Linked DNA regions of Homo sapiens: regions 2 and 3 are each linked to region 1. Evidence: fine-mapped expression QTL. A gene starts in region 1. Each other region holds a variant in brackets. All regions are shown on one strand. Distances are between the middles of the regions.

Region 1 (11,168 bases):
ACTGCATTAATAGAATGAAGGATAAAACTCACATGGGCATCTGCACAGATGCAGAAAAAGCACTTGACAAAATTCGATACTCTTTTGTGATAAAAACTCCCAATAAACTAGGTATGGAAGAACCTTATAGCAAATTAGGTAAAGGAAAAACAAAATAAAGTCCATTTATGAGAAGCCCACAGCTAAGATACTTAAAGATAAAAAACTGAAAGCTTTCCCCATAAGATGAGGAACAAGGCAAGGTTGCCTACTTTAGCCTCTCCTATTCAGCGTAGTATTTTAAGTCCTAGCCAGAATAACTAGGTAAGAAAAATAAATTAAAAACATCCAAATAAAAAGAGAAGAGGTACAATATCTGTTTGCAGATGACATGATCTTAGATGTAGAAAACCTTAGGGACCCCAACAAAAATGTGAGAATAAACAAATTTGCCTTTAAAAAAGAAGGAAATCCTGCCATTTGCAACAACATGGATGAACCTGAAGGACATTATGCTAAGTGAAATAAGCTAAACACAAAAAGACAAATACTGTATTATCTCAATGTATGTGAAATCTAAAATAGTCAAATACATGCAAGCAGAGAATAGAATGGTGGTTGTAAGGGAACATGGGGAGAACAAAATGGGAAGCTGTTGTTCAAAGGGTACAAAGTTTCAGTTAGGCAAAATAAATAAGATCTGCAGGTACAACCCAGTGTCTGTGATTAGCAATATTGTATTCTTAAAATTTTGCTAAGAAGTTAGATCTAATGTTAAGTGCTCTTATCACAAAACGTGAAAAAAAGATGAGTAGAAGGAAACTTTTCAAGGTGATGGCATTGATTTCTTGTAGTAATAATGGTTGGATGGTTTCACAATATCTACTTATCTCCAAACAGAAACTGTATACATTAAATGTCTATAGCTTTCTGTATGTCAATCATACCGCAATAAACAGGTTAAAAAATGAAGCAGCACCAGATCCCTGTACACACACCTCTAAAAATAGTCCCTTTGTATATAAAGCACCCCAAATTTTCTCCTTCTGAGTGTGTTATCTACTTAATTAAGGGCCTGGACTACAAAATCCAAGTTTTCACTTTTCACCCAAAGTTTTCCATTCTCACACACAGAATTTTCTCGTTCAGTTAGCAGATGCAAGAAGAGAATTTCAGATATTAGCTTTAAATACTACATTCTTGTCTATACCTGGTATTACTAGCTCTACCTAATTCATTTTCTTTCTTACCATGAAATTATAGAAACAAAAAGGTTACTGCAAAACACTTATAAACATATTGTCAGCATGAAATAATTATAATTATCCTATAATAAATTGTACCTTTTGAACAATTTTGGTCACTTTTTGATCTTCGTGTATTAATAAGTTAATACATGTAAATCATAACCAGAAGGGAAAATCAAAACATTCCACTTACCAAGTAATGATGAAAAAGAGAATGTGTGTGATTTAGTTAATTTAAAATATTATAGAAAGCAACAAATAACAGAAATGGTATCTGGGATAAAGTTCCTGGACCTGGATAAGGATGTTTGGTGATATCTCAAGCTGTTCAACACCTTTGCACATGCCATTTCTTCAAGCTTGAAGAGATACAGAGCAACTCCTTCCCTCTCCCATTCTCCATCTGGCTAATACCCCTCGGCATCCTGCTTAAATGTCACCACCTCAAATAAGTCTTAGATCCCAAACTAATTAATCCCCCTCATTAATTTTCTCTAATAGACCCAGTTCTTTTCCTTCTTGGTACTTATCATAATAAAGAACCAAAATCTGTGCCAAGGGTCCAAAATAGCACTCTACCTGAAAAGCAACACTTAATCCTTGTCATTTCTCAGCTCTATTTCAGAATGAGCTGGGTTACTACCTGGGGTCCCATAACGACCTATATCCCAATGGCCTAGAAATAGAAGGAATACACCGATTCCCCCTCTTGATGCTGATTCTTCACTTTAATAAGCCACCACCATTGTCAGTCAAGATGTTTTGCACTGTCATCGGTCCCAAACTCCTGCTGGTTAGCCAGCTGTCTACTTCCAAGAAGAAAAGGTGAACACAGAAAAAAAGGCAAGAAATTCAAAATATCTATGCTTTTTACAGAAAGAGTAAATGGTACAATTATTTTGGAAAACTTACTGGTGATACCTACTAAAAGCTGACATACATGGGGCCTATGAAACAGGAATATGACTCTGAAGAATGTACACAACAGAAAAACACATACGTGAACCAAAAGATTTGAACGAACTGAGACTTTAAACAAAATGATTCATTTTTTAAAAACTGCCCCAAAAGTAATAGCATGGAATTTATTTCTAAATGACTAATTTTCTTGCATGGAGTGGGACTTTCATTAGATTATCAAAGGAGATTTTTCCCAAAGAAGAGTCATAAATAGGTATATAAACGATTAAGAACCTTTGCTGGAAGGAGGTAAGTTTCTGAACTATAAAAGTCTAGTCAGCCAGTAACGTGAAACTCAATAACTTACATAAAAACATCTACCACAACTGTCCATGGACACTTCATAGAAGAAAAGTAATACATAACAATACCTTGAGTAATGAACCCTTTGAGAATGAAGCTCCTTTAAAATGAAGTTATCACATTAAAATGAAGTCATTATATTAAAATGAAAACAGAACAATTCATAAATCAGGTGAAGCTGGGTTAGTGTGATCTTTTCCTCCAATTCGCATTACCCAGCTGTCCAGGATACAAATCATCCCTTTACACACCGTTTCTCTATCTTTAAATAAGGAAAGGTAAGAAGGTCACCGATTTACAAAATCCTAAATTTAGTAAGCTTCCTACTTTAAGCCCCTCGCCACTCATTTCCACAGCCATTTCCCCAGGGTAGAGCAACTGCTCCCTCTTTATGAACCTACCTTTCTGTTCCTAGTCTCCTTTATCAACATGGTAGGCAACAGCTTATTGAATATACTTTATAGACTTGTGCATGCACATTTTAGTCACTATTTTTCAGCCAATAAATTACTTCAACTAAACATTTACATTTCTAGACAGAGATAATTTTAGGTACTGTCAAATGGGAGATAACTAGAAAAAGAGAAAGTCATCCTGAAATCACATTATACAAAACACTGGCCAAGAAGGTAAACCCTATTTAATATCCTTTAGACTGACTGGGGGTAGATGGACACACGGAAGCCTAAAAGGGATTTCCCAAGATAAGCCTTTACTTTCCTGAAAAACATGAAGTGAGGACTACTCTGGCTTTAACCGCAAAAAATGTATTCTTGGATTTTGCCACTGGCCAATATAGTAGGTCTGAGCTTCTTTCGGGTTCCAGACCCATCTATCGTAACACAATTCTTCTAGGGATACCTTCTTCCCAGTAACTTTAATGTAAATTCTATGTCTTTCCAGACTTCCTTTAGTCCTTCCAGATGTATATTCCATTTTCCCAGTGCAAGTAATTCTGTTTTACGTAACACTTTATGATATCTTCTCACCTTTCCTTTTTCTGACATTTTGGAAAACATTTCAGTGTCTCTTACATGATTTCTACCTCTGATAATGGAATTTCTGACAACAAAGTTATGTCTCTCTTCAGTACCAGTGAATAAATATTTTGAAGAGTAATACAAGCAGAGCTCGTGAACGAGGTAAGTGATAGGAGACAGAAAAATAAAGGGATTTAAAATTGGGATTATCACAGAATAAAATTACAGCTACTGCTCTACATTCTCACAAAGGGCTTTACTAAGTCTACTATAAAATTCAAAAGCCTTAAAAACAAGACATTAAAAGAAGCCAATCTATTACTTATGTACATTTTAACACCTTACTTTCATTAATGAAAAATACTTTTAAAAATTTAACATTTTCAACTTATAGCACTGATCAAAGGCAAACTAAGGAAAAAAGGAGATACCACTCAGCTTGCAGCATAGATTCAATAATAAAGAAGCTCTCAATATTCCTTTCTAGCTTCCTTCCTTGTCTACAAGTCAGATCTGCGCAATTGAACTTGTGGGAGAGGTTGTGAAAATAGTGTACTCTAGCAGTTTAGGATTTTCAACATCGCTCAATCTCATTGCTGTTAGAGGTCATTAAAACAATGCCTCCCAATAGAATGTCACTGGACCAGAGTGATTTTTGTTTAGAATGAAGCAACTACACTGACTCTAATAACAGTCAATGGCTAAGAGTTTGTGACATAGCACATAATGCTCGATATTATCTAAAAACACGTATCAAAAACAAAAAAGTAAAGATGAGAAAAACAGTTTATGAAACTGCAAAAGATATTAGGGAAATACTTCTCTAAGAGATAGGAGAAAGGTCTGAGAAAGGCAAAGCATCGAGAAAGCTGGGCGGGAGTGGGGAGGAGTAAGGGACAAGTAAAGAGTTCAACGGGACTGCTGTGTTCACACATAAAATTAAAAGGTCTGCAGATAATTCGGGAAAAAAACAGTCTAGCATGGCCATAATTCCAGAGTAAAAGAGAATAACAACTTCAAGATTAACTTGTTACAGTGAGGGAAAAATCTGTAGCCTTCAATAAAGGTGGAGAAATATTTGAAAAGCTGGGGAAATGCCAACAAGGAAAACACGAACTGCTGTCCTGTCTTCCTTATAGTCAGGAGCCGTTTGTATCCTCACCCCAGAGGATCCAATAGGAATCAGTAAGCCTATAACTTTCCAACCCTAAGTCACAACCTAATTCTGATAGGATGAGCTACCACGATACTTCCCACTTCGTTGTGACTAAAAGCATATACTAGTTGGGTATATAAGCAAGGCTCCCCTCCCGCCATTTGATTTAAAAGAATGAAAAGGCGGATCTGGTCATTCGTCTCCGCCCGGGGTCTCTGTAAGGACGGCGGAGAGAGGCGACCTCCGCCCAATACCAGGCGCAGCCTTGCCGTCTCCTCGGGGCTCACCAAGCAGCCACCAGCAAAGAAGCCGGTTTCAAAGGCCCAGCACGACAGGGAGAGGAAAACGGAGCATATGCAACCATACACAGTCACCAGAGTCCAGCCTCCCGCAACCAGTCGCTACAGCCAGGCGCCTGCGCCCAGAAGCGCTTCTCGCGCCGACCGTTTGTATTTGGAATTGTGGGTTCCTGCCCGCCACGCACCACCGCAAGACCTTCAAAGCTGGGAGCTTCTCTGTGCTCCAGGATTCCTCGCTGCCGATTCCACACCGCGTTCAAGACTCCTGTGAAGAGCGACTCCGCTGAGAGCCTCCTCAATGGCCAGTCCACTTCTAACTTGCAGCTGAGAAGTTTTTCTGATCTTGATGGTCAGAGTGGCTCGTGCTACGAAGTGAGAAACAAGGAATCTATAGCGAATCGTAAACAACAGAAATAAAAATGCGTCTCCGTTAAGAGTCGGAGCCTAACGTCACTTCCGGCAACAATAGGAAACGTCAAAATTGGGATAGTCGGCAGTTCTGGCCCCTGCAGCTGGAGGTACCCTGAGTTCTGAGGGTCGTAGTGCTGTTTCTGGTATTCTCATCGCGGTCACCTCTACCGGTGTGGACAAGTAAAGTTTGAATCAGCTTCTCCATGGCCTGGGCACCAGTTCCCGGCTGAGCCATTTTCCTTTTGGCTAAAAGTCCCCGCCCAGAGGCCAATTCGTCGCGGCGGCGGTGGAGATCGCAGGTCGCTCAGGTACAGGAGTCAACCTAGATATTTTAGATCTCTTGTCTCTTTTCCCTGTTCACCTTCACTTTTCTCGAAAATAAAGACAACCAGTGCTTGCCAGTTGGCCGAAACTGGCCGACCAGCAAGAGTTTGCGACCAATGACAGTGCGAAGCATCTTGAGTGACAGTAGTGGTGGCTCATTAAAGTGAGGAATCACTGTCAGGAGGCGGAACTGGGTGTGTTCCTTCTGTTTCTAGGCCATTGGGGTGTAGTTCGGTTTAGGACTCCAAGTAGTAACCCAGCGTCATTGTGAAATAAACCTGAGAAATGACAAGGGTTACTTTCTTCAGGTCCAAGTGTTGGTTTTCGGGTCGAGTGTTATTTTGGTTCCTAGACAGTTTTTGGTTCTTTACCACTTTCCAGTAATATGAATGCAAACACAAGTATAGTTAAGATCACGATGGATTGCTAGCTGCTACAGTAGTCAAACTTGGGTTATAAAACTTGTCAAACTTGTCTTTTATTTGTTTCTCAGCGACTGGGTTCTAATCTCTTACGTAGAAGGTTCTCAATATTTATTTGGCAAAATCACATAAATGGATCCCAATCCTCAGTCATTTAATTTTTTTAGTTTTATTTTTAGGTTCTGTATGAATTTACTAATAAAATAATTGATTCTACTTGTTTTACAAGTAAAATATTCATTTTCAAGGCTCCTAGGTGTATATCCACAAATGAATATATCATGATTTTTATTACGGTAAAGTGAAGACAATTTATGTTTTCTATTTCAGCTTTCCTCTTCCTTCTTTTAATGTTTGAAGTAATGTATTTCTGAGGTAGGAGCTCTACACACTTCTCAACTCTACCCTTCACGAAAATGATATGTGAAACAGAGTAGGTTTCAGAATAAAGAATGCATAAGTTTTATTATTTTTTTCATATTGGGTCAGAAATTCATCTTTAGCCAATTAACCTGACAATATGTCTGATGAGGTACTTCATTAGTTGTCTATTGCTGGGTAACAAATTACCCCCAAATTTACCCCAGCTTAAAACAACAAATATTATCAGTTTCTGTACATCAGGAATTAGGGTGCAGCGTAACTTCATTTAATAATAAGTTACAGCAAATTAACTAATATTACTTGGGGCCCTTGGATCAATTACTTCCATCCACAAAATATTATAGTAACTTCTAGATAAGCCAAAACATTGATCATAATTTATTACATATGGTCACTTTAATGGGGAATGTTTTGTGTGTTTACTGTTGCTAGGTTAAAAGATATCTTCCTCATTTTACAATATAAAAACATTGAATTACCAAATCTTTAATCACAGTGTGTTGAAATTAGTCATTCAGATTTGTAACTTTATGGTTTATTATTTAACCAACTGCTAATGTACAACTAATTTTTTCCTCATTTTGATTCAGATTTGGAAACTGGCACTATTCCATTGACTGACCCATGATAATGCATCAAAATCATTAATACTAAAGTCTAAGAATTATGCATTTAATTTCTGTTTCTTTTTCTTGAATTATTTTACTTAAATAATTTTTTAAACAATTTAAATGAAATACATCTATTTCTGGAAATTTATGTTCACTATTTCTTTTTCGTTTTGCTCTCATTGTTTTGTTTTTCTGACAAATTTCTTGACTTAGCTCTCTAATAAACTAAAACATTTTTGGCTGACTTGAATAAATTTATATCATATTTGGGGCAAGTATTTTTTTGAGACAGATTTTTATTCTGTTGCCCAGGCTGGAGTGCAGTGGTGCGAACAAGACTCACTGTAGCCTTGACCTCCTAGGTTCAAGCAATTCTCCCTCCCACCTCAGCCTTCAGAGTACCTGGGACCACAGGCACACGCCATCACGTGTGGTTATTTCTTTTAATTTTTTTGTCTGACTGTGCTGCCCAGGCTGGTCTTGAAGTCCTGAGCTCAAGCGATCCTCCTTCCACAGCCTCCCAAGGTTCAGGAATCATAGGTGTGAGCCACTGTGCTGGTGCAAGTACTTTATAGCAATATAAGATAAAAATATTTGTGGTTTGGAGTTTAGGCAACAGCTTTAGGGAGTTTAACCATTTAGTCAGCAGTTCGTGTATTTTTCAAGAATAGATTGCATAGGATTCATAAGCTATTTGAATGAAGGAACCAGATTTTAGCAAGTAAGCCAAGCTTGGAGAGACTCTATATGGAGTAGTGATTTGTGGAAGTCATGAATATAGGGAAAAAAGAGATGGAAAGGACAGATGTTAAATACACACACACGCACGCCATCATCTCTTCTTTTATTTATTAATTTGTTTTTCAGAGTTTTTTCCCTCATTTTATTTTTATGGGATCACAGAATTGTTTCTTCCAATTTTTAAATTGTAGTAAAATATACGTAACATAAAATTTACCATCTTAACCATTCTAAGTGTACAGTTCAATGGTATTAATTACATTGATAATGTTGTGCCACCATCAACACCATCTATCTTCATTACTCTTTTTATCTTGTAAAACTGAAACTCTATACCTATTAAACAATAATTCCCCTTCCCCATTCCTAGGTCCTAGCAATCACCATTCTACCTTTTGTTTCCAGTTTTGGAAACCGGAAGTGTTTGTATTCATATTACTGGAAAGTGGTAAAGAACCAAAACCTCATATAAATGGGCTTATCCAGTATTTGACTTTTTTTGACTGGCTTATTTAACTTGGCATAATGTCCTCAAGGTTCATCTTTGTTGTAGCATATGCCAGAATTTCTCTTCTTTTTAAGGTCACATAACATTCCCTTATATGTGTCAGCCACATTTTGCTTATCCATTCATCTGTTATTGGACACCTGGGTTGCTTCCATGTTTTAGCTGTTGTGAATAATGCTGCTATGAACATGGGTGAACAAATATCTTTTCCAGACCCTGCTTTGAATTCTTGAGGGTATATACCTGAAAGTGGAATTGCTAGATCACATGGTAATTCTGTTTTTAATTTTTTTTTAGGAAGCTCCATATTGTTTCCGCAGAGGCTGTACCATACGTATTACATTCACATTAACAATACATAAGGGTTCCAGTTTCTCCACATCCTTGCCAAGACTTATTTTTTTTTCGATAGTAACTATCTTAATGGGTATAAGGTGGTCCCTCATTGTACTTTTGATTTGTATTTCCCTAATGATTAGTGATGTTGACTGTATTTTCCTGTGCTTATTGGACGTTAGTGTATTTTCTCTGGAAAAATGTCTTTTCAAGTCCTTTACCCATTTTTGAATCATGTTTTTGTTATTGTTGAGTTAAAGGAGTTATCTGTAAATTATAGATATTAGATTTTATCAGATACATGATTTTCAAATATTTTCTCTCATTCGGTGGGTTGCCTTTTTACTCTGTTGATACTGTCTTTTGATGCACAATTTTTTTTTAATTTTCATAATGTTCAGTTGGTCTGTTTCCTCTTTTGTTGCTTGTGCATTTGGAAATCATTGCCAAATTCAGTGCTGTAAGCCTTTTGCCCTGTTGCCCTGTTTTTTCGTCTAAGAGTATTACAGTTTTATGTCTTAGATTTAAGTCTTTGATCCATTTTGAGTTAATTTTCATAGATAATGTTGGGTAAGGTTCCAACCTCATTCTTTTGAATGTGGATATGATTTCTCAGCACCATTTGTTGAAAAGACTGTCCTTTCCCCCATTAAATGATCTTGACACCTAGTCAAAAATCTTTTGACCATATATGTGATGGTTTATTTCTGGATTCTCTGTTCTATTTCATTGGTCTGTATGTCTCTTTTTATGCCAATACCATACTGTTTTGGTTACTGTAGCTTTGTAATAAGTTTTGAAATCAGAAAGTGTCTTCCAGCTTTGTTGTTCTTTTTCAAGTTTGGTTTGACTATTAGAGGTCCCTTGAGATTCCATGTGGATTTTAGAATTTTTTTCTATTAATGCAAAAAACGTCATTATAATTTTGGCAGGAGCTACATTGAATCTATAGATCACTTTGGGTGGTATTGCCATCTTAATAAGTCTTCCAATCTGTAACCACAGGATGTACTTCCATTTATTTGTCTTTCACTTCTTTCAGTAGTGTTTTGTAGCTTTCATTCCAGAAGCCTTTTACCTACTTGGTTAATTCCTAAGTATTTTATTCTTTTTGATGCTGTTGTAGTTGGTATTATTTTCTTAATTTCCTTTTCAGATTGTTTATTGTAAATGTATAGAAATACGACTTATTTCTGTGTCTTGACTTTATGTCTTTCTACTTTGCTGAATGGATTTATTAGTTGTAAGTTTTTGGTAGAATCTTTAGGGTAACTACAAAGGATTTTACTGCTTTCTTTCCAATTTGGTTGTCTTTTACTTTTTTTCTTGTCTAATTACTCTTGGAACCATGGAATTTTATAGCTAAAAAAGACCTTAGGGAACACCAGTTTCAAAACCCTTATTTTACAGGGGAGGAAACTGAGACCTCAAAATTTTAGTGACTTGGCTGATGCTCCCTACTAGCTAAGGAAGGAGACTGAGTCAAACTCATGTTTTCTTTCCATCAGTCTCTTTTCACTATTAAATGTTTTCTCATTTTTCACCTTCCTCCTATTTCTGGCTGCCTTCAATATTCATTTAATTTAATACCTTGTTTTATTTGTATAAAAGCAACTCAGTGAGAATTATGACTTTTGTTTTGGTTTTTAATTCCATAGCACTCATAGCAATGGCCTTTGTGGTTAGTGGGCAGGTGAGTATGTGTATACTGAGAAGGTGGGTTAGGATATGCTACCATGACTACAGCTGATTACAGCCACTTTAAGTAAATAGTGATACAATTAAGTAAGAACCATATAATTAAAAATAATGCTAGTGAGAAGTATGATACATTTATTTTAAAGTTTCAAATAGTTGGACAATGGAGCATTTCTTGAAAAACAAACCACAGAAATTGAATAAGCCTAAAATTCTTAGATTTTTGGTTGCATTTAAATAACACATCTTAATTTTTACATTTATTTAGTTGCCATTTTGGTAACACTTTTTATAGAATAAAATTAACAGGAAAAAAACCTTCAGGGAACAAAGTAATATTGTAAATCTTTTTGAATTAAAAAAAACCAAAACCTGCAAATGGTATGCCTTTTAGTAACAAAAACTGCTCTTGCAGGACCAGATCTTTAAATTTAATGAGTAGGGGCTTTTTATGTGTTCAATGTACCTTGTGACCTCTTAGTACTTAGCTATTTCCCTTTTCTCCTTAGAAAGACCTCCTTGTGGACTTACCCTTCCTTTATTTCTCTACATTTGTTGCCTTTAAATTTTAGGGATGTGATTGGTTATCAGGGTTTTTTTCTTTTTTAAAAAATTTCTCTACGCAGTCTGTTCTAAACTTCTTTGGTGGTCTATTCTTTTGGAAGTGAAGAAATAAATGCTAGGCTCCTGATTTGATTCAAAATGTCTCAGAAAATATTTTCTCATAGACTCTCCCATGTTCTTATGCTATTGAATAATATCACATGATATCCCTTAAAGATTTTTAAAACCTGAAGTAACCAAAAATA
Region 2 (8,682 bases), 30 kb before region 1:
AATAGAGCATACTAAAATGTTCAACACATTTCTCATGGTGAACCTTGAGACCATAGTCCTCTTGGTCTAAACTTGAGGACCATAGTCCTCCAGCCTGTTTCCCAGTACAAAAGGAGAATCTTAACCTTAATTTCTCAGTGTTAATTGGAAAGGTATTGATGTTTTTGACCAAGCATGAAATAACTGCCTTTTTGTTTTATTTAATTTTCAATGAGCATTTTTAACTGTTCATTATAACTTATTCATCAGTACAGATGCCAAGATGGTATATATGAGAGCCTCCTGGGTATAATACACAAGTCCCATTTGGAATGTTTCCAACAGGATGTAAACCATAGTCCTCAAGCCTGTGCTTTAAAAAACATTACTTAGCACACTGCCAACAAATGTCAACACAGAAATACAGTGCTGTAATGACTTCACTCTGTAAGAGAAATATACTGGAACATGAGTTTTTCCTAAAAAAAAAAAAAGTGACACAAGGTAAAGCAGTATAATCATTGCTCAAAAATATTAAAAGAGTTATTCAATAATGAATGCAAAAATTCATATACCAAATGGAATCCAAATTGTCAAAAACTGCAGTATTGCAGTATATTAAAATTGTATAAAGAATTCTTAAAATATACAATATGTATAGTAACCAAAGTCCTAGAAAAAAGTTCATGTAGAAAATCCTACAAGTAGTGATTTGGACATTTCAGTAACTCTGCAGTTTCTTCAAACCTGAAATATAATAAATAATATATTAAGTAAATCAATAATTCATAATAAAGCATAGCATTTTAGTTGTTGAAATTATGCTTTTTAGCCTAAAATAAATTTGAATATTTTTCTTATCTATAAGTACAGTTACTATGAATAAACTTAAGTATGACCAGAGGGAAGACAAAGAGGAGTCGATTATGAGTCATATTCTTGAAGTGTAAGTTAAGTACTTTTTGCATTTCTAAATAATATTATAATTTTCTATAGTAGTAGGCTGCATAATCATCTTATATGCAATTTCATTTCATATTTCCTTTGAACTGCTCTTTAGAAAAATCACACCATTTGTACTAGACAAAAACATCATTTTTAGTATCTCATCAATAACTTGCCGAAAAACACCAGTGATATTTTCACAACACTGAAAATGTCTCCAAACCATCCATCTATATATATTATTTAATATTTTGATAAATCAGTTATCAAAAATAGATAATACTCTTGATTAGTTACCAACCAAAAATATCTTTGTATTCTCTCTGCAGTTAATTCCATTAACAATTCCAACAAGTTTTAAATCGCTTGTTGGAAACTAAAACAGTGACTCATCTCACAAACACATAACTGTAGGTGGATTTATTATCCAGTGGAGTCCTGAAGGAAATTCCACACCTGATTGAGAGACCTTTAAGGTTTGAAACACACATGCACATTCTATATATACTGTAATCCAATACAATTCCCTATAGAGAAATGAATTTCTGTTGCCCCTTTCTGTTACTTACATTTTTTTCATCCTTTCCATTTTCTGGATTGTTGTTTCCTTTAATTTAAAAAGCAACAAATTTAGATGATTTCTCAAAGTAAACCATCATCAAAGATGGACCGAGAATGTACAAAACACAGTTTGAAACATTGCATTAAGTACTGTTTACTTATGAAAGAATTTTGAGAGACTAAGATTCGCGTTTGCTATTTTTCTTGCTAGCAATATTTACAACAAAAGCTAATGCTTGCTTGTTTTCCTCATTTAGAAAGGAAATAATCTAAGCATTTTCTTACCTCTGAAATCTCATTCAAACCACAGTAATTAACAGTAGAGGCTCTGGGAGTTGAATCTGATGATGCTGTACTATAGCCAGAGGACAGAGGAATACTTGCTGGCCTCTCTACTTCGCTTTTTCTGTCTGTGAAGAAATTAAGTTTTAGATTACCTTTTCCTTTCACAGAAGAGTCAAATATCTAAAAATATTATTTACAGATGGAAGAAAAACATACTATTTTAATTAAAAATGGCTATCCGCATAGATCAAAGAGTTTTTAGTACTCTTAAGGTAACAGCTTTCATATGGAGATCTAGATGTTAAAAATTGCCCAATAAAAATTACAAAAGGCAGTATTATTATCATGATAGCAATCAGTTTGAATAAACAGGTAAGTTAATAATTTATTTTAAAATATAACCTATTGAATCAATCATGTATATTCTTTTCTTTTTTTTTTTTTTTTTTTGAGACGGAGTCTCGCTCTGTCGCCCAGGCAGGAGTGCAGTGGCGCGATCTCGGCTCACTGCAAGCTCCGCCTCCCGGGTTCACGCCATTCTCCTGCCTCAGCCTCCCGAGTAGCTGGGACTACAGGCGCCAGCTACCACGCCCGGCTAATTTTTTGTATTTTTAGTAGAGACAGGGTTTCACCGTATTCTTTTCTTAAAATGGTGATATTTACATTAAATAATTAGTATCCATGAATTTGTCATGATGCTTTTATTCAGCAACATTTAAGCATTTCACAAATTTTTTTACTACTGTTCTGTGGCAAGTGACAACTATTACTATAACTGACCATATATATCTTTTAAAAATCAAGAAACATTCTAACTTGATTTGACATATATGAAAATAAGTAATGCAAAAATTTAAGATCCACAGATTTCTTTTTCTAAAAAACGGAAAAACCTAACATTTCAAATATCCTGATAATATTAATTTGACAAAATGATGGCATCTCCCCTACAAAAATATCAATTAGAGAAGATTACGGATAATGTAATAAATCCTACAAACCCTGTGTTTCAGTCAGAATACATTTGGCTGCAAAAGCAATGCAAAAAAAAAAAAAAATTAGACACCCATTTAAATTGGTTCACATAAAGAGAGCTTTATTGTAAGCCTACACAGACAACCTTAATTGGGGAACAAACTATTACCACTGAGAACTGAAACAACTAGAAGACTAATTTTTATCTCTCATAGAGCCACAGTCTCTTTTGCCTACTTCTGCCATTTGCTCCATCCCTCAGCTCTTCTCTGTAGAATGGCTTTCTCTGCTGACTCATCAGCGTAAACTTCCACCACATGGCCAGCCCGGCCCAGGCTCAATATCATTTGACTAACTAACTCGTGGTGTCCTAATTCCAAATGCTAAGAGAGAGAATGTAATTTGACTCATCACACTTTGAACTGGAATTCTCTGGGTCAGGTGTCTACTCTTAATCCAATTAGCTAAGCCTGGAGGTCAAGATTACAGGGTGTAATTCTGAAGACTACCTAAACCCAGATCTTTTAGTAGGAGCTATGGACAAGAGGTTATTTTAAGAAATAATTTGAAATTAGGCAGGAACTATATCTACTATGCACTAAATCTTGGATTTTTTTCTGTGGGTACAGATAGTTGTCCTGAACATTTCGGACATCTTTCCAAAAAGAGGAGGGGGCCCTAGGAAAAGGAAACAGGTCCGGGAAGACAGATAAAGGGTGAAGGAATGGCTCTCTTTGTCTTCCATTTTGGGGTCCAGACTTTGCGGTGTCTAACCTTATTCAAGAGTGTGCCTCATGGTGGGAGAAAGCTGGTATTTGGCAGGCTGGCAGGCTATTCATAGTTATTCCTACAGAGGATTCCAGAGGCTACAGAGTGGACCATTACAGAACACCAGCTATATTTAATAGCCAGATCAGTTAACTGCACATTAATTTCTATATTTTTTCTTATTGCTATCCTGAACCTTTAGTAAAGCCTTACTTGTTTAAACATTAATAGTTTCTTAGCTGTGCTATAGGGGATTGAGAAAAGAATTGGTAACTGAGTTCAGGTTGGAAAGGAAAGGGGAAAGGCAATGGCCACTGACACAAGGACCCTGACACCAGTTGTTATGTACTTCAGTAGTGACTGCTAAGAAGTCTCTGTAAAGAAAGGGACTCTTCTACTTCTAAGATTATGGGGGTATGGGACATGAAATCTTCTACCCAACTCTTACCACGTAACAACTAATCTTTCACTGCCATCTTTGGAGGCTTATCACCTTATTCCACGAAGGGAATCAGTAGGGTCCTTTACCATTTAATAATTTGTAAGCCAATACTTCTAAATCAAGGACCAATGTATGTATCCAACTGATTTCTAGATATTCTGTCTTAAGGATTTCATATATAATTTATTATATTCAAAAGTGAACTCATTATTTCTCCCAAACCTTCTCCTCTTCCTGAATTTTTTATTTTATTAAAGAGTAACAATCACCTACCCAATCACATGAGCCAAACACAAGTAGTCAGTGTTACCTTCCTTACTCTCCTTCACCCTTTTTGTATCTATCAGGATCAAGGCATATCAATTTTAACATCTAAATTTCTCCCAAATAAATCACCTGCTCTTTATCCTCACTATCATTGCCTTAGTAGAGACCCTCATTATTATTCTGAAATAATGACTACTAAAATTCTCTTCAAATTATCCTTGCCTATCTTACTTTCCTAACAAATCACTATTCTGCTTTGATGATAACCTTTGTGAAACACAAACCTAAGAATATTAGCCTTGCTGAAAATCTTCCTACGACTCTGGGATAAACTCCATGACTTGATCTTTCTACTCTTCTGCTACAGCTTCCTTCAGGTGCTCACATGTACCCTTCCTGCTAGTCACACAGGAACAAACCACACTCTTCTGTGGTAGCACACCTTTTTTTTTTTTTTCCTCTGAGGGAAAAAAGGCACAAAACAAAGCGAAACAAACAAGCAAATAAAAAAGGAGCACTAACAGTTGGTGCCCTGTCTGGCAATTAACACCTAAACTACTGTACCCTCTAATGAATATAAATAATTTCATGAAAAAGAACATCACATGAGGTCACTTCATTAGCATAATGAAACAACACACCCAAAACCACCATTCATGTCCGAACATAGACAAAACAAGGGCACCATGTAACCACATAAATGAGCAGATATAGCCCCCCTTGCCTAACATGAGTACTTATTTTATGCTAAAAATTTCATTCTTACCATCAATCATCAAATTGCTCCTGCTCCCTGACAGCACCCGTAGCCCTTGCTTCCTCAAACCCTCTCCAAAATTATCCAACACAAGTCCAATCC[C/T]TAAAAGCCTCTGCTAATTCACTCTTACCAAGACATTAAGGTGCCTTACAATTCCCCATGGAACACTGTATTCCTGATAAAGGCAAAACAAATCTGGAACCTCACAAAAACTATTCCTGATTTAATATGATCCTAAACCCAGAGTAGTAAATTATTGCTCTCTGCATTCAAATGAAATCAAACCCTATTTCCAAGTAGCATGTATAAGGTATAATGTGTAAGTCTTTATAAACTTGAGTCTTTTAATTAATCTAGATCAGATCATAAACTCTATGAGACCAGGTATTCAACCTAATCATAATCTGTAATCCATTTCAGATAGAGGCCTGTTAATTACTTTCAGTCCTGGCACAGTTGTTGAAATTTAGCTATGTGAACCCGGACATGTTAACTCACACCTGTAATCCCAGTACTTTGAGAAGCAGAGATGGGAGGATTGCTTGAGCCCAGGAGTTCAAGACCAGCCTGAGCAACATAGCAAGACCTTGTTTTACTAAAAACAGTATGTAAATAAATAAAAAATTATCCAGGTGTGGTGGCACGTACCTGTAGTCCCAGCTACTCAGGAGGCTGAGAAAGGAGGATCACTTTAAGCCAAGGAGTTAACATCTAGGAGACTGCAGTGAGCTATGATTGCACCACTGCACTCCAGCCTGAGCAGCAGAGTAAGACCACACTTATCTCAAAAAAATTAAAAAATTAAAAAAAAAAAACTTAGCCATGTGTTTTCTAAATAGGTTAAAGGTATATTCTATAATCATGTCATTAAAAAAAAATAAGCCTGAGCATGCAAAATCAAACTTGAAAAAGGCAATGTTTTGCAAATCACAAGCATTCAATATTCTTTCAGTGAATAAATATTTAAACTCTACTATATGCAAATACTGGTGATAAAAGCACCGACATACTTTCTGTGTGCTAGACAGGCAGACCATAAGATAAAGTTTTTGCTCTCAAGGATCTTATACTCAAGCATTAACATTTGTTGAATAGATATATGAATGGATAAATAAAACAGGCAACATTTTACCAAATCTGAAATCTGCAGCCTATAATAAATTTAGTTGCCTTAAATAGCATCTCAAATAATTATACTTAACAAGCTAATCACTGAAATTGTTCTTTGTGCAATGATATTGATATGTGCTCCAAATATGCAGCAGTCAAGAAAAAACTTCAGATCAGTTGCCTGGATTCAAATTTGATCTACAATTCAATAACTGTGTGACCTTTGCTGTAGTTACTTAATTTTGCTGTACTTCAGTTTCCTCAACTGTAAAATATAAAAATAGTACTTATCTTGCAATGGTTACTTCAAGAATTAAATGAGTTAATATAGTAGTTAGAATCGTGCCAGGCACACTGTTAGTGCTAGAATATATATTATTTTATTGTTACACATATAGTAGAGCTGAAAGATTTTATAACGTTAACAATCCACAGATATTAAAAATTTAACTTAACGATGAATTCTCAATTGGACAAAACATCTCTTCTATAGCTATGATTTAATCATAGATATGGCACAAAATTTAGATCTTTTAAAAATACATAACAATCAAAACAAAGCTGTCACTGAAAAACAGAAATCTTACCCTTGCTGCTCAGTCACACTAAGCAAAATATCAGTAGCCTAGTAAAGTGACCAGGAAAAGACCTATCCTAATATCAGATCTTTCCCATTTTATCATTATCAGTGAACTATTCACATGGAAGAAGTTTGCAATACTTTATAGATACTGACAAATGTGTTTTCTTCTCTTACATATTATTATTTACATATGAGAAAGCTACTACCTACCTAAGCTTAAATTTAAAAACTTGGAGGCCAACATTAATATCCTAGAGCACTTGATTATTCTCGAATGATTAAAACAGTAAAATATCTCTAAAAATTTTCAATTTTGTACACTGAAATTTATTCACCCACTATGTTATGTGAAATAAGTAGGCTGGTTAGTTAAGCAATTCTTGGCTTTAGTAGTCTGTAGGTTCATTATGTTCTTTGTTCTAGGAGCTTTGCAATTTCTAAACAATAAAGCTTAAGAATATTAAAATTACTATAACAATCATTTTTCTGAAAACTCATCATACCAATTCTCATAGTATTTACAAACTTACGAGGATTCAGAAGGTCCATGTCACTACAAGAAGCGTAGTCTTCACTAACTTCATTAAACTCTATAAATTCATCATTCTGGAATAACACAGTTAAATATTTAGAATGAAATAAAAAGAAAAACCCTCTCATTTTATATTCTTAATGCTGAGCATAAAATATAAAGGTAGCATGATAAATGTTTAAATATTTTTAATTTTTTATTAAAGCAATACATATACTGCATATTCCTACATATAAGAAATGTTTTAAATATGGAAGCAGATAGCAAGCTACTTGACTTCACCTTCTAGGAAGGAAAGACAGACCAGAAATTGAAATCCTGAGTAAAAAAAAACAAATTTCTCAGATTTGATAAGGCAATGGTAAATCTGGTAACTATTCTATGAAATTCACAATATGATTGAAGTAAATGAGTGAAAAAAAGATGGGAAGAGTTACCTATATCTTCTGTATCTTTTCTACCCTATGAAAATAGGTTATTTGTACTATTAAAAGATATAAAATAATTTTAAGCTTTTCATATCTATCATATTCTTACCTCATTTTAAATTCTTCAAGCATTATTAACATCTGTAAAAGCTCAACTGACAAGTTTTTCAGATTATCTTATTCAATGAAGAGAGAAACAACAGCCACAACAACATACAGGCTATATTTAAACAGGACTTCATTCTAACTAGACATTTTCTCATTATTCAAATATTCTCATATTTAGCATTTCCAAAAAAATACACATATAACAATCAAAAAAAAACTTTGTTATATCTGAGATATTTTATAAATGTTAAAGGAGGAAAATACCTTTTTAGACAAAAGCATTTCTGTTTCAAGAAGAGTGACACGACTAAGAAGATTAGTCCAGGTGTTTTCATCTACCATCACTTTTCCTTTCATTTTTTGTTCCAAACAGTCTAACCTTTTCTCTATCGAAGTCAGTTTCTTAAGATTTTCTTGGCATTCAGCAAGCATAGTTTGTAGTGCAGTAATCTCAGGATTAACATTTACATCCTAAAAAGGTTAGAGAGATTAAAAATAAAATTAAACAAACTGAAATTTCTTTAAAATTAATGTATTCTCACTTCCACAGCGTTATCTCAACAGTTAGGAGAGACCGTCCTGCTTGAGAGTTAAGAGAGCTATCTCTGGATGGAGACTACTTGGCCACTTAAACCAGTTCTGAGATTTATGATCTTGATGCCTCCATTTCCTCATTAAAAAAAAAGAGATAAGAGCAGTATCTATTTCATATGATTCTTCTGATAATGAGTTAATTTGCATGATTCTCTTAATACCAGCTAGTAAAATAAAACTATTATTAACTAGCTTCTTGAAACAACGCTTAGCACAAAGCTAAGAGGAAATGACCAAAAACAACACTTAGTGCATTGAGATTGTTCGGTTTGCCATATAACAGGAAGTAGGTCCAATGGCCATCTGGTAGTTTTTGTAAGTGCCAACTGTATATTGATATACTGAGAT
Region 3 (11,168 bases), 19 kb before region 1:
AATTTTCTCCCACTCCGGAGGGTGTCTGTTTACTTTGCTGATAGTTTCTTTTGCTGTGTAGAAGCTCTTTAGTTCAATTAGATCCCATTTATCAACTTTTGCTTTTGTTGGAATTGCCTTTGGCGTCTTCGTCATGAAATCATTGCCGACACCTATGTCCTGAATGGTACTGCCTAGGTTGTCTTCCAGGGTTTTTATAGTTTTGGGTTTTACATTTAAGTCTCTAATCCATCTTGAGTTGATTTTTGTGTATGGTGTAAGGAAAGGGTCTAGTTTCAATCTTCTGCATATGGCTACCCAGTTATCAAAGCACCATTTACTGACTAGGGAATCCTTTCCCCATTGCTTGTTTTCATCAGGTTTGTTGAAGATCTGATAGTTGCAGGTGTGTGGTCTTATTTCTGGGTTCTCTATTCTCTTCCATTGGTCTATGTGTCTGTTCTGGTACTAGTACCATGATGTTTTGGTTACTGTAGCCCTGTAGTATAGTTTGAAGTTGGGTAGCATGATCCCTCCAGCTTTGTTCTTTCTCCTTAGGATTGCCTTGGCTATTTGGGTCTTTTTTGGTTTCATATAAATTTTAAAGTAGTTTTCTTTAGTTCTCTGAAGACTGTCAATGGTAGTTTAATGGGAGTAGCATTGAATCTATAAATTGCTTTGGGCAGTACAGTCATTTTAACAATATTGATTCTTCCTATCCATGAGCATGGAATGTTTTTCCATTTGTTTGTGTCATCTCTGATTTCTTTGAGCAATGGTTTATAGTTTTGCTTGTAGAGATCTTTTGCCTCCCTTGTTAGCTAGATTCCTAGGTATTTTATTCTTTTTGTGGCAATTTTGAATGGGAGTTTGTTTGTGATTTGGTTCTCAGCTTGACTGTTGTTGGTAGATAAGATTGCTAGCAATTTTTGCACATTGATTTTGTATCTCAAGACTTTGCTGAAGTTGCTTATCAGCTTAAGAAGCTTTTGGGCTGAGAAGATCCTCCTACAATTATTTTAAACATACAGCAATTTTGCAAAAGGAACACCAATCTTTAAAAATTAAAAAAAGTTTAAATTATCACATATAATATATATATCAAAATATTACCATTACTAACATTACCAATAATTTATGTGTGATGATAAAATTGGGGTTATGACTTTTAAAACAATTCTTACATTTTAGGACAAGCGCTGAAATATTTATTAAATTATGTCTGAGATTTGATTTAAAATAAAGACAAAACAAGATTAGCAAAGAGTTGATAAATTGCTGAAACTGGATGATGGGTATGTTTGTAAATGTTTGAAATGTTCCATAATAAAAAGTTATTTTTAAAAAAGATTGCCAAATAATTCACTTATAAATAATCAAAAACTGGCTCTATGAGTAGGGCTCATTACAATTTTTCTGTTAAACAAACTGCAATTTATTAGACCTTCAGCTAACAATTCAAACCTAATAATGACAACGAAGAAGTCCTGACAAAAAAAGCATTAGGTCACGGTATGCATTTACCTAGAAATCCTCTACCTGCTTCCTATTCTACAGTTTGCATACACACTATAAAAACATATGTGACTCAGAAGCGCAAATAGGCATACTATATAAGGCACTGGGATAGGAGACAATTTGCTTTAATATTGACTCAACTTTTGCTTGTAAACAAAGAAATGTACTTGTAGACTCTTTTCTAAATCTGAGAACTTTTAATACTTATTCAAATTTCTGATAAAGATCTGGTATAAATTTTAATAGATAACAAAGAAAACTTTGCTTTAAGAAAATTAAAAATAAGTCTAATGTTTTGAAGTTTACATTTTTCTTGGCTAGGACAATTTACACTGTCCCCTCAACTCTCATACTGAAATAGAACATTGAAAAGCACATTATATCAATAAATAATTAATAAGTGCTCACAGTGTTCCTAATCCTGTGCTAAGCAAAATGAAGGTACAAAAAATCAGTATAAGAAAATCCCTGTTCATATATGTTCCTTCTAGTTGGGGAAGAATACAAGATATAAGTCATTTAACAGTTAGAAAATCATAAATAAAACTAACAAGAGTTAGATGAGTTAGAGATGCAAGTGTACAAAAACTACATGCACTTATTCAAAAATGGCGGCTTTGTATCATTCTTTATATTGTCTTCATTACCTAGAGCAAAACAGGTACATTAAAAAGAAGTGGCATAAGAACATTTTCTTATAATAAAATTTCACTTTTTTAAGGTATAAAGGAATAAACATATTTTTTTGAGATGGAGTCTCGCTCTGTCAGCCAGCCTGGACTGCAGTAGTACAATCTCGGCTCACTGGAACCTCTGCCTCCAGGGTTCAAGCGATTCTCCTGCCTCAGTCTCTCAAGTAGCTGGGGTTACAGGCACCAGCTACCACGCCTAGCTAATTTTTGTATTTTTAGTAGAAATGGGGTTTCGCCATGCTGGTCAGGCTGGTCTCAAACTCCTGACTTTAGGTGATCCACCTGCCTTGGCCTCCCAAAGTGCTGGGATTACAGGCATGAGCTACTGTGCTAGACCCAAGAATAAATTTTTAAAATAGATTCTGTTTACATAACTCATGTATTTTGGATTAGGGCAGAAATAATACTCTAGATTATACTTCAGTCAGAAAGTATTCACATCCTTTACTTAATTACACCATTGATAATTCATCTGATATTCTATCATTCAATCAGAGTCTTCTCCAGCTGGAAGACAGCTGAAAATATATTAATAAATAATATTTTAGCTTAAGTCTCCCTTAGTGATAGAAACACTGTAGCTCTAAGTGCATTAGATTCAATTTGCCACAGCTGCTCAAAGCAGATAATGGCAGAAAAATTATCTTTCAAGAAAGAGAAAATATTCAAAATATTAACTGAAAACCAGATTCTACGTGTAGGGACTACCAATTATTGGATAATTCATACTTGGTTACAGAAATATAATGTACATAAATGAATCATTATAACCTATCACTACTGCTAATGTAGGCTCTTCATATGTTCCCATGTTTTAGGAAGACCAGAACACAATTAAGAGCAAATGTAGATAACTGCATAAGATAATCTTCCTAAATCACTACTCTTCTGTTTAGGAAATCCGGCAGAATTAGAAATTAGAAATATAAAGAGAACACGTATTTAATTTTATATTTCTATCCTATTGTTATAACTTCAGGCATACTGCCCAAAAATATATGGCATGCACTGTTAAAAATCAATGAACTCCAATATCTAACTAGAATGTTCATCAGGTGCCAATCAGAAAAGTGAAAACTGTATATTGGATTAATTAGATAACTCTTAAACAATATGATATTTTCTTTGTGGTTGCATACCTTTCCTGAGGTCATAAACCTGCCACTGATATCAACGCCAACAGCCTCTGCAGATATTTTCTCATTGC[C/T]CAAAGGAGGTTCTGACTTACCAGAACTGATTTTCTTTCTTTGTTGTGATGGAATCTAAAAAAAAAGGTATTAGTCAAAATAACAAATTTTGTGTGAAAGCATAATTATATATTAAAATTCCATTAACATTTAAATTTTCATATATGAAATATAGCTGACAAATAATGAGACTCTAATGAGACTACATGACTTTTAAAAACTAAGAAGTAATGAAAATGTATTATGTTTGAACTATTAGTTTAACACTAGGAGTTCCCAGTCACAGGTGTATAAAACAAGAGAGTAGTATTTAAAATAAACAACAAGCTTTATAAGGTTACTCAAATCTTTGAATAATACAGTAATTACACTATGAAATAATTTGCTGTCTAGGGTTTTGATTTTATACATTAAAATACTGAGCCATCTATTAATAGCATACATCAGCATTAATATCTATTCATAAAATTACCTTCTGAAGACTGCTTAATTCCTTGTGCTTTTTCATCACACAATTCAAAATATCACAAACAATTTGGATTTTCCATTCTGCAAACCCACATTGGATAAACTGCTTTTTTGTCAAAATTGGTTTATAATTAAATTGATCACGAAGAAGCTGCAGAGGAAACAGACTCTTGTAATAATTGGGAGCAATTTATTTCTAAAATTCCAAATGATAATGCCCACCTGGTCAGGGGAATAATGGCCACCTTTGAGAGGACAAGGAAAACCAAGCCATTAACTAAAGAGTACTAAAGTAATTCATAGGGCTGGTGTTAAGTCATGATCCAGTAAGACAGGTATCAGGTGGAAAACAGGTAGCAAAGGATATGCTGGAGAACAGATGTCTGTCCAGAGAGATGGAAAAATATAGTCAATCATCAAAAAGTGTAAATATCTTCAGAGATATTAGAAAAACTTCTTAGTTCACTAGAATACCATACCAGAGTCAGAAACTATAGTTCTATTTGTTTATAACTCTTCCACTATGTGATTTTTGGATACGTCAGTAGGCCTTTTGGTCTCAATTTTTCATTTGTAAAATGAAAAAAAACACACTAGATCAGTAGTTTCCTAAATCTACTCTGTGGAGCTCTAGAATTTCTTAAAAGTGCCTCTTAGGCTTCCATGGATGTCTTCTGGGATCAAAAGCAAGAAAGAGAAAGATTAAACAGAGACTACATATAAAAGCTCCCATTTCATTGACTGCAACTCTGCTTTTTTTAAAAGACTATTTGAGGCTGGGTGCGGTGGCTCATGCCTGTAATGCCAGCACTTTGGGAGGCCAAGGTGGGCAGAGCACAAGGTCAGGAGATCGAGACCATCCTGGCCAACATGGTGAAACCCTCTCTACTAAAATACAAAAAATTAGCCAGGCGTGGTCACGGTGCACGCCTGTAGTCCCAGCTACTCAGGAGGTTGAGGCAGGGGAACTGCTTGAACCCAGGAGGCGGAGACTGCAGTGAGCCTAGATCGTGACACTGCACTCCAGCCTGGTGACAGAGCAAGACTCTGTCTCAAAAAAAAAAAAAAAATAGACTACATTTGATAAGTGGGTTTTTACCATTAAAAACTAACTTTAATACAAACCACAGTACTTAAGCAAAAATTAATGATAAAAGCAGGGTTTTAAAAAAATCAAATAAGAGATTAAATTCAGTATACACATAGTACAAGTATAAATACTAGGGTAGATACAATATAAGACATGCTCTCAGACCTCAAAGAATATATCAGTTTAATAAAAAAAAAATGTCAGTAATAGTTCCTTCTTACAAACAACTAAATTAACATATAATTCTAAAAAACTGTAAGTTTTATTGAATATAATTACATTACTCTCTAATTTCTGCCAGTATATCAAATTTTACTAAAATTTGATTAAAAAGGGCAAACAATAGCCAACAACAAATATTTACCAGTTGCTGTATTTATTAGAATAGGTAACATTCAAAAAGCAAACATGAATTGCATCTTGATTTCAATAGAGACTACATTTAAATGAGATAAATACAAATGAAAATATCCTGTCAATTGTATATGCTGCATATATTTAAGAAGTTATGACTAAATCATTAATTTTTAAAAATCATTCAATAACTAATAGTTATTGTTTGATAAACTCAAAATACCTTATAGACAGCATCTATAAAGCGCAAGTCATTTTTTGCTATGAGCTCTACATTGGATTCCATTATAAGTTCTGTTACATAAGGTGAGTATGAGGTAAAAGAATAGCTGATGATGGGCAAAGATGCTGCTGGGTCTCCCTTTATCAAACTGTTAGGAAAAAAAGAAAAATATTTTTAATAAGCATTTAATAAGCATAATTCCACAAAGTTGGATAATCAAGAAAATATTAGAAATGTTTATAATAATTTAAAACTTAACACTATAGCTATAATAATTAGGTGATACATGAGACTTTCTAGATTCCATTCCCCATTTGAAACCAGTCTAGCCAGACTACTATGAAATACCACTGTTCGTCTGCTCAAAAAACTTACTATAGGTCTCTAGTACCAACTATTTACCATTGATTTTCCAAAGCTTAGTCTTACGTGATCTACTCCATTTTCTACTACTAATAAAAGCAATGTACCATCTTACAAAATTGAAGTACACTTTATGGTTTTGCAAACACTTGTTCTATTACCTCCTTTGCTCTCTACCACAAACTTCCAAAGGTAAATATTATGAATTCTAAGTTACAGATGAGGAAGATGGGATGGGAAAAAGCATGAACTGTGACTTGGTTGACCAGTCTATTACTTTTCACTTACTGCTCCTTCTAAATCGTATATTATTACCTATGTTAATTCCACCAGTCTAGAAAGGTATCCCACTCTTCTTTGCTTATCCAATTATTATTTATTTTTTACAAATCATTCATCAAATCTCAAGCTTCCCATGAAGCTTTCCTCAACTTTCTGATCTATACTGATCTCTCCAAGAAAGACTCCCAGGCTACTCAGTATCTGCTGTGTCTTTATCTGTCTGGTAGTGTTTCCTGTCTTATTTTCTCAATGTGAAGTACCTTCACTGATTTTCCCACAACAAAGCACAGGAGGTATTTGTTCAATTTGCCAGTTACATTTGTTCAATTGCAGTATTTTGTACTTATATAAAGCAAATGTTTTCCAAAAAATTCAAGATGTTCACATAAACATCCCCATCTCCACCCAAATTTTTAGTAAGACAGAGAACAAATACATGATGATAGCACTGCATTTTGTTTTACTGGACAAATATGAATTATTTCTTTTATGTTTCTTTGAAATACTGTAATATTTCACCCAATCAGAAAACTCCTCTGGCAACCTTGTCTATCTGAAACACAGTCCAAAAACAGGAAATGAAAAAAAAAATACCTTTGAACAGCAAAATCTGTCCATTTTATGCACACTATACATAGATGATAGCCAGGCACACATTTAACACTTTTTATGTTAAACAATTTCAAAAATCTTGATTATCTAGTTCCTAAGGACTTAGCATATTAGAAACAGTAAGAAAAACAGATGCCAACACAAAAAACAGCAAATGGCCAGAAAACATAACAAATGTGAAAAAGTAGAAAAAAGAATCAAAATGATGGGGGTGTTGTGTGTGTGCTTAAATGTGTGTGGCAGGGAGACTAGCAATCTGAGTGCCTCTGTGGAAGAAGCAAGTAGCATTTCAAATCTCAATAGACCCTGCAGATTTTAGTATGTTATATAATAATCTAAAAATTGTTGTTCTTAATGATGCTTTTGGGTAATAAGAAAATTAAATGTTTAAACACTGTATTTAGAAAACAAGATAATACTGGTATATTTTAGAATTATTCCTATTTAAAATGTCTTTTAAAATGTTGACACTTAAAGTGGCAAGGAGAAGACTTGGCTACTCAAACTGGTTAAACCCCTGCAAGTTCTGGATGGTCAGGATTTTCATGTTTTGAGGAATCAAGATGATTTTTACATACATGGATTACATCTGTTTCATATCTTCTGCCTCTCACATATAATGCCTATAATAACAGCAACTTGAGCTAAACTTTCTCCTTACTCTCCTCTCTATCCTTTCACTTTCAGCCTTCTCTTGAGTTACCTCTCCCTACTGTAACCTCAAGAGTTATTAGAATATCCATTCTTATATGGATATCCATTCTTATATGTAAAGCCCATTACTGAAGGATTCTACTTACAAGTTTCCCTCTACTCTTGAACATCTAACTTGGACTTGTCCCTGGACACTCATTCATTCAATAAATGTCTAATCAACTCCTAATATGTGCCATGCATAATTCTAGATGGGGGGATTCCACAGTGAAAACAAAAAACAAAGTCCAAGACTTCAGCTTACATTCTAGTAACCAATGAACATTTAACCAATCCATCAATTAATCAATGATAAAAGGTTAAGGGTAAGTGTCATGAAGAAACAGAATTATGAAGGGATACAGAATGACTGCAGTACCATATTATATAGGCATGAATATAGGAAAATGTATGTTGCCATATTCTAAAAACGTTGTCATAGTTGCAAAATGGGAGCTAAAGTGAAAGGTTCAAAGTGGGGTCTGTTAAATGGGAGAGCTTAAGCGCAATCTTCAGGTTGCCATACACAAAAAAATCTACTAACTAGAATATTCCATATGAAAAAGAACACTCGACTTAAATGTATAAAATCTTTCCTCTATAAAAGAATAAACAAATAAATGATAAGAAAAGACTGACAAGAAATGGCAACAATCTCTTCTTATTCTGGATATATTTAACTGTAAGAAATATCATCCAACTGAATATGAGAGAATGGTAGATTATACAAATAATAAAATCTATTATACCTCTATGAGTTTAAAAGCTGTACAGAGATTATAACTTATACAGATAAATACTGTGCTTCTAAACAGTTTTAAATCTTTTAAGTTGGAATTCTTCATTAGTTCATACTTAGAAATAAACTCCTATAATTCCCTGCTTTCTCAAATATTTTAATCATTTCAAGGCAGATTTAAATAGGAACCAGGTAAAATCTGATTTTTCTCAGGTAGTCCCCCATGTTAAATATCATCTCAAATCACTAGCAAGAAGAATACAATTAAGTTTGATATTATAGCTTACCCTACACAGTCCACCTCTTCAGGATAATTTAGCAAGCGGAGCACCTGTTCTAGGTTCCGTAAGCTTCTTTTTAAGTCACCTGTTGCCATTACTTAACATCAGATTCAGCTCCAATTCTTGAAATCGTCTAATTTTTCACCTGAAAATAGAAATCCATGAAATACTGGTTAAGTCTCTGTATTTTTGAAGCTTCTTGATTCTATTTTGGTCATATCTCCTATTGGCACTTACCATATTTATCTTACCCTAGCTCTTTTTCCCCGAGCTTCTTCTCTACTACTCAAGTTCTACTTTGTAACTACTATAAGTTTCTGAATATAGGGTGTCTCCCCTACCCTCCTACATGTTTTCCTCCCAAAAAAATAAGTTTGCCTTATATTCATCTTATTATAATGTATCTTATATAACACTTGCCCAAATAGTTTTTTTTTAAGCATAAAGCACCGTTTGAGAAGACACATCAACTTGGAATAACATCCATCAGTGACTCTTTTGGATGCTTATAGAAGCTACATAACACAATCAATAAAAAATGGAGACAAATTTAGCGCAGATTTAATCAGAGTCACAGGGCTCTGATCTCACATAGTTGCCAAAAAGATACCTTTCCTAAAAACTAAAAATACATTTTAAAAATGCAGGGTTCACTTGGATAAATATGACAGATTAAATGCATGTTACCTTCCTTTCCATTTTCTAAAGATCACTAAAATGAAAGTAAATAATTAAAAATCATGGCTGGGCGCGGTGGCTCACGCCTGTAATCCCAGCACTTTGGGAGGCCGAGGCGGGCGGATCAGGAGGTCAGGAGATCGAGACCATCCCGGCTAAAACGGTGAAACCCCGTCTCTACTAAAAATACAAAAAATTAGCCGGGCGTAGTGGCAGGCGCCTGTAGTCCCAGCTACTTGGGAGGCTGAGGCAGGAGAATGGCGTGAACCCGGGAGGCGGAGCTTGCAGTGAGCCGAGATCCCGCCACTGCACTCCAGCCTGGGCGACAGAGCGAGACTCCGTCTCAAAAAAAAAAAAAAAAAAAAAAATCATATATACCCACCAGGACAAAAAGAACTACAGGAGATTTCACATAACAAAACAAGTATCAACAAAATTTTGGAAAATGAAAAGCAAATGAATAAGGGATAACCAACCTAGCAGAGCACAGACCAGCCAATCCCATCTGCCTAATATTTAGGAGGAAACCAACTGAAGCAAGATAGGTTCACAAATCAGGTACACTTGATGCTTCTGAAAGACAAAGGGGTAAGTCCAGGGGGCTGAAATAAGAATGATTATTTGAGAGTCTACATAAGAAGCAGCTAACCCTAGAATTTATTTTCCCTCCCGCCTCCTATCCCTACACACATAACTTGCTCAGCAAGGCAACTACCTCTCACCTTCCCTGGAAAGAGAAAAGAGCTTTACACTCCAAAGAAATTGAATCAAGGAGGCACTAAATTTGGTAACATCAGGCAAGGCGAACAATACAGAAGGAAGTGTTCGAAGGCAGAAAGAAGTATTAATGAAAACACACACACACACACACACACACACACACACACTAATAAAGTTTCTTCCTATATCTCAGCCTCAAGAAGCTGTTAGACTTACATCCTCTGTGACAGCAGACTATCAGGTTCTATGCTAGAGAAGGTGGATGGACCTAGAGAAAAAAGTATCACATTTCTGACATTTGAGGAAAATCCCCATTGAAAAGGGCAGGTCTTGCCCAATAAACCTGCAGCAAACTCACTTATTGATAAGCCCTAACCAGGCACCTTTTTTTCTTAGAGACTCATGTTTAAAACTGAATATATGCCCAAAGGTCAATAACTATTAGAGGGAAGCTTCAGTATGAAAAGTATATATAAATACCTTAAACAAAATAAGCAGAGAAGAAAAATTTGGTGGAAATAGAGATAATATAGAGAAAAAATTTCAAAATGAAGCTTTCAATTCTCAATGAGATTAGAAAAAAAAATTAAAACCTAAAACAAGAATAGAAGGATATAAAAAATATTAAGCTTGTGAGAATGTAAAATGAGCCAGAGATTGTTAAAGTGGATCAAAAATAAGATCTAACTACATGTTGTCTATAAGAAATCCATTTTGTTTATAAGATTAAAAGTAAATGGATAGGGAAAAATATACCATGCTAACATTAATCAAAAGAAAGCAGGAACAGTTATAATAATCTCAGACAGCAGACTTTATAATAAGGAAAGTTATTAGGGACATAGGGTCATTACATAAAGATAAAGGACTTAATTCTCCCAGAAAATATAACAATCTTTAATGTATATGCACCTGACAACACAATGTCAAGATATATGAAACAAAAACTGACAGAACCACAACGAGAAATATACAAATCCCCTATTTTAGTTGGAGACTTCAACACTCCTCTATGAGAAATAGATCCAGCAGGCAAAAAAAAAAAAAAAAAAAAATCAGTAAGGACAAACAATATCATCTATCAACTGGATATAACAAATATTTATAGACTACTTCATCAAACAACAATAGAATACATATTCTTCTCAATTTCACATGGAACATCCACCAAGATAGACTATCTTTGGCGTCATAAGGCATACCTTAACACATTTTTAAAAAGTATAAATCATACAATGTCTGCTTTTAGACCACAATGGATTTAAATAGAAATCAACAACAGAATTGAA

Which allele goes with the higher level. Alleles are on the strand shown, and positions count from the first base shown. SD is a standard deviation of normalised expression in the study named.
As copies of T replace C in region 2, the expression in ovary of the gene that starts at base 5,142 in region 1 goes down (small effect, 0.36 SD a copy in GTEx).
In carriers of allele C in region 3, the expression in minor salivary gland of the gene that starts at base 5,142 in region 1 tends to be higher than with T alone (small effect, 0.38 SD a copy in GTEx).

What was found. PIP is the estimated chance that this variant, and not a neighbour inherited with it, causes the effect.
Region 2: its variant is the best candidate, but not a certain one, in a credible set for the expression of CEP44 in ovary (GTEx, PIP 0.86).
Region 3: its variant is the best candidate, but not a certain one, in a credible set for the expression of CEP44 in minor salivary gland (GTEx, PIP 0.61).

Annotation. Positions count from the first base shown.
Region 1 is chr4:174,277,885-174,289,052 of GRCh38, reverse strand. CEP44 (centrosomal protein 44) reads right to left here and starts at 5,142. Exons shown (of 12, transcript NM_001040157.3): 1 at 5,110-5,142. It overlaps FBXO8 (F-box protein 8), which reads left to right and starts at 5,386. Exons shown (of 6, transcript NM_012180.3): 1 at 5,386-5,643. RefSeq lists a silencer at 4,910-5,177 and an enhancer at 4,942-5,191.
Region 2 is chr4:174,309,379-174,318,060 of GRCh38, reverse strand. It overlaps CEP44 (centrosomal protein 44), which reads right to left. Exons shown (of 12, transcript NM_001040157.3): 8 at 8,005-8,211; 9 at 7,203-7,278; 10 at 1,771-1,895; 11 at 1,494-1,531; 12 at 1-726. The coding sequence ends at 678. Among named protein-coding and RNA genes, the nearest start is that of CEP44, 30 kb to the right of the region's middle. The variant C/T (reference allele first, on the strand shown) is at 5,082.
Region 3 is chr4:174,296,530-174,307,697 of GRCh38, reverse strand. It overlaps CEP44 (centrosomal protein 44), which reads right to left. Exons shown (of 12, transcript NM_001040157.3): 2 at 9,636-9,732; 3 at 8,488-8,626; 4 at 5,512-5,659; 5 at 3,849-3,995; 6 at 3,329-3,451. The coding sequence starts at 8,576. Among named protein-coding and RNA genes, the nearest start is that of CEP44, 18 kb to the right of the region's middle. The variant C/T (reference allele first, on the strand shown) is at 3,397.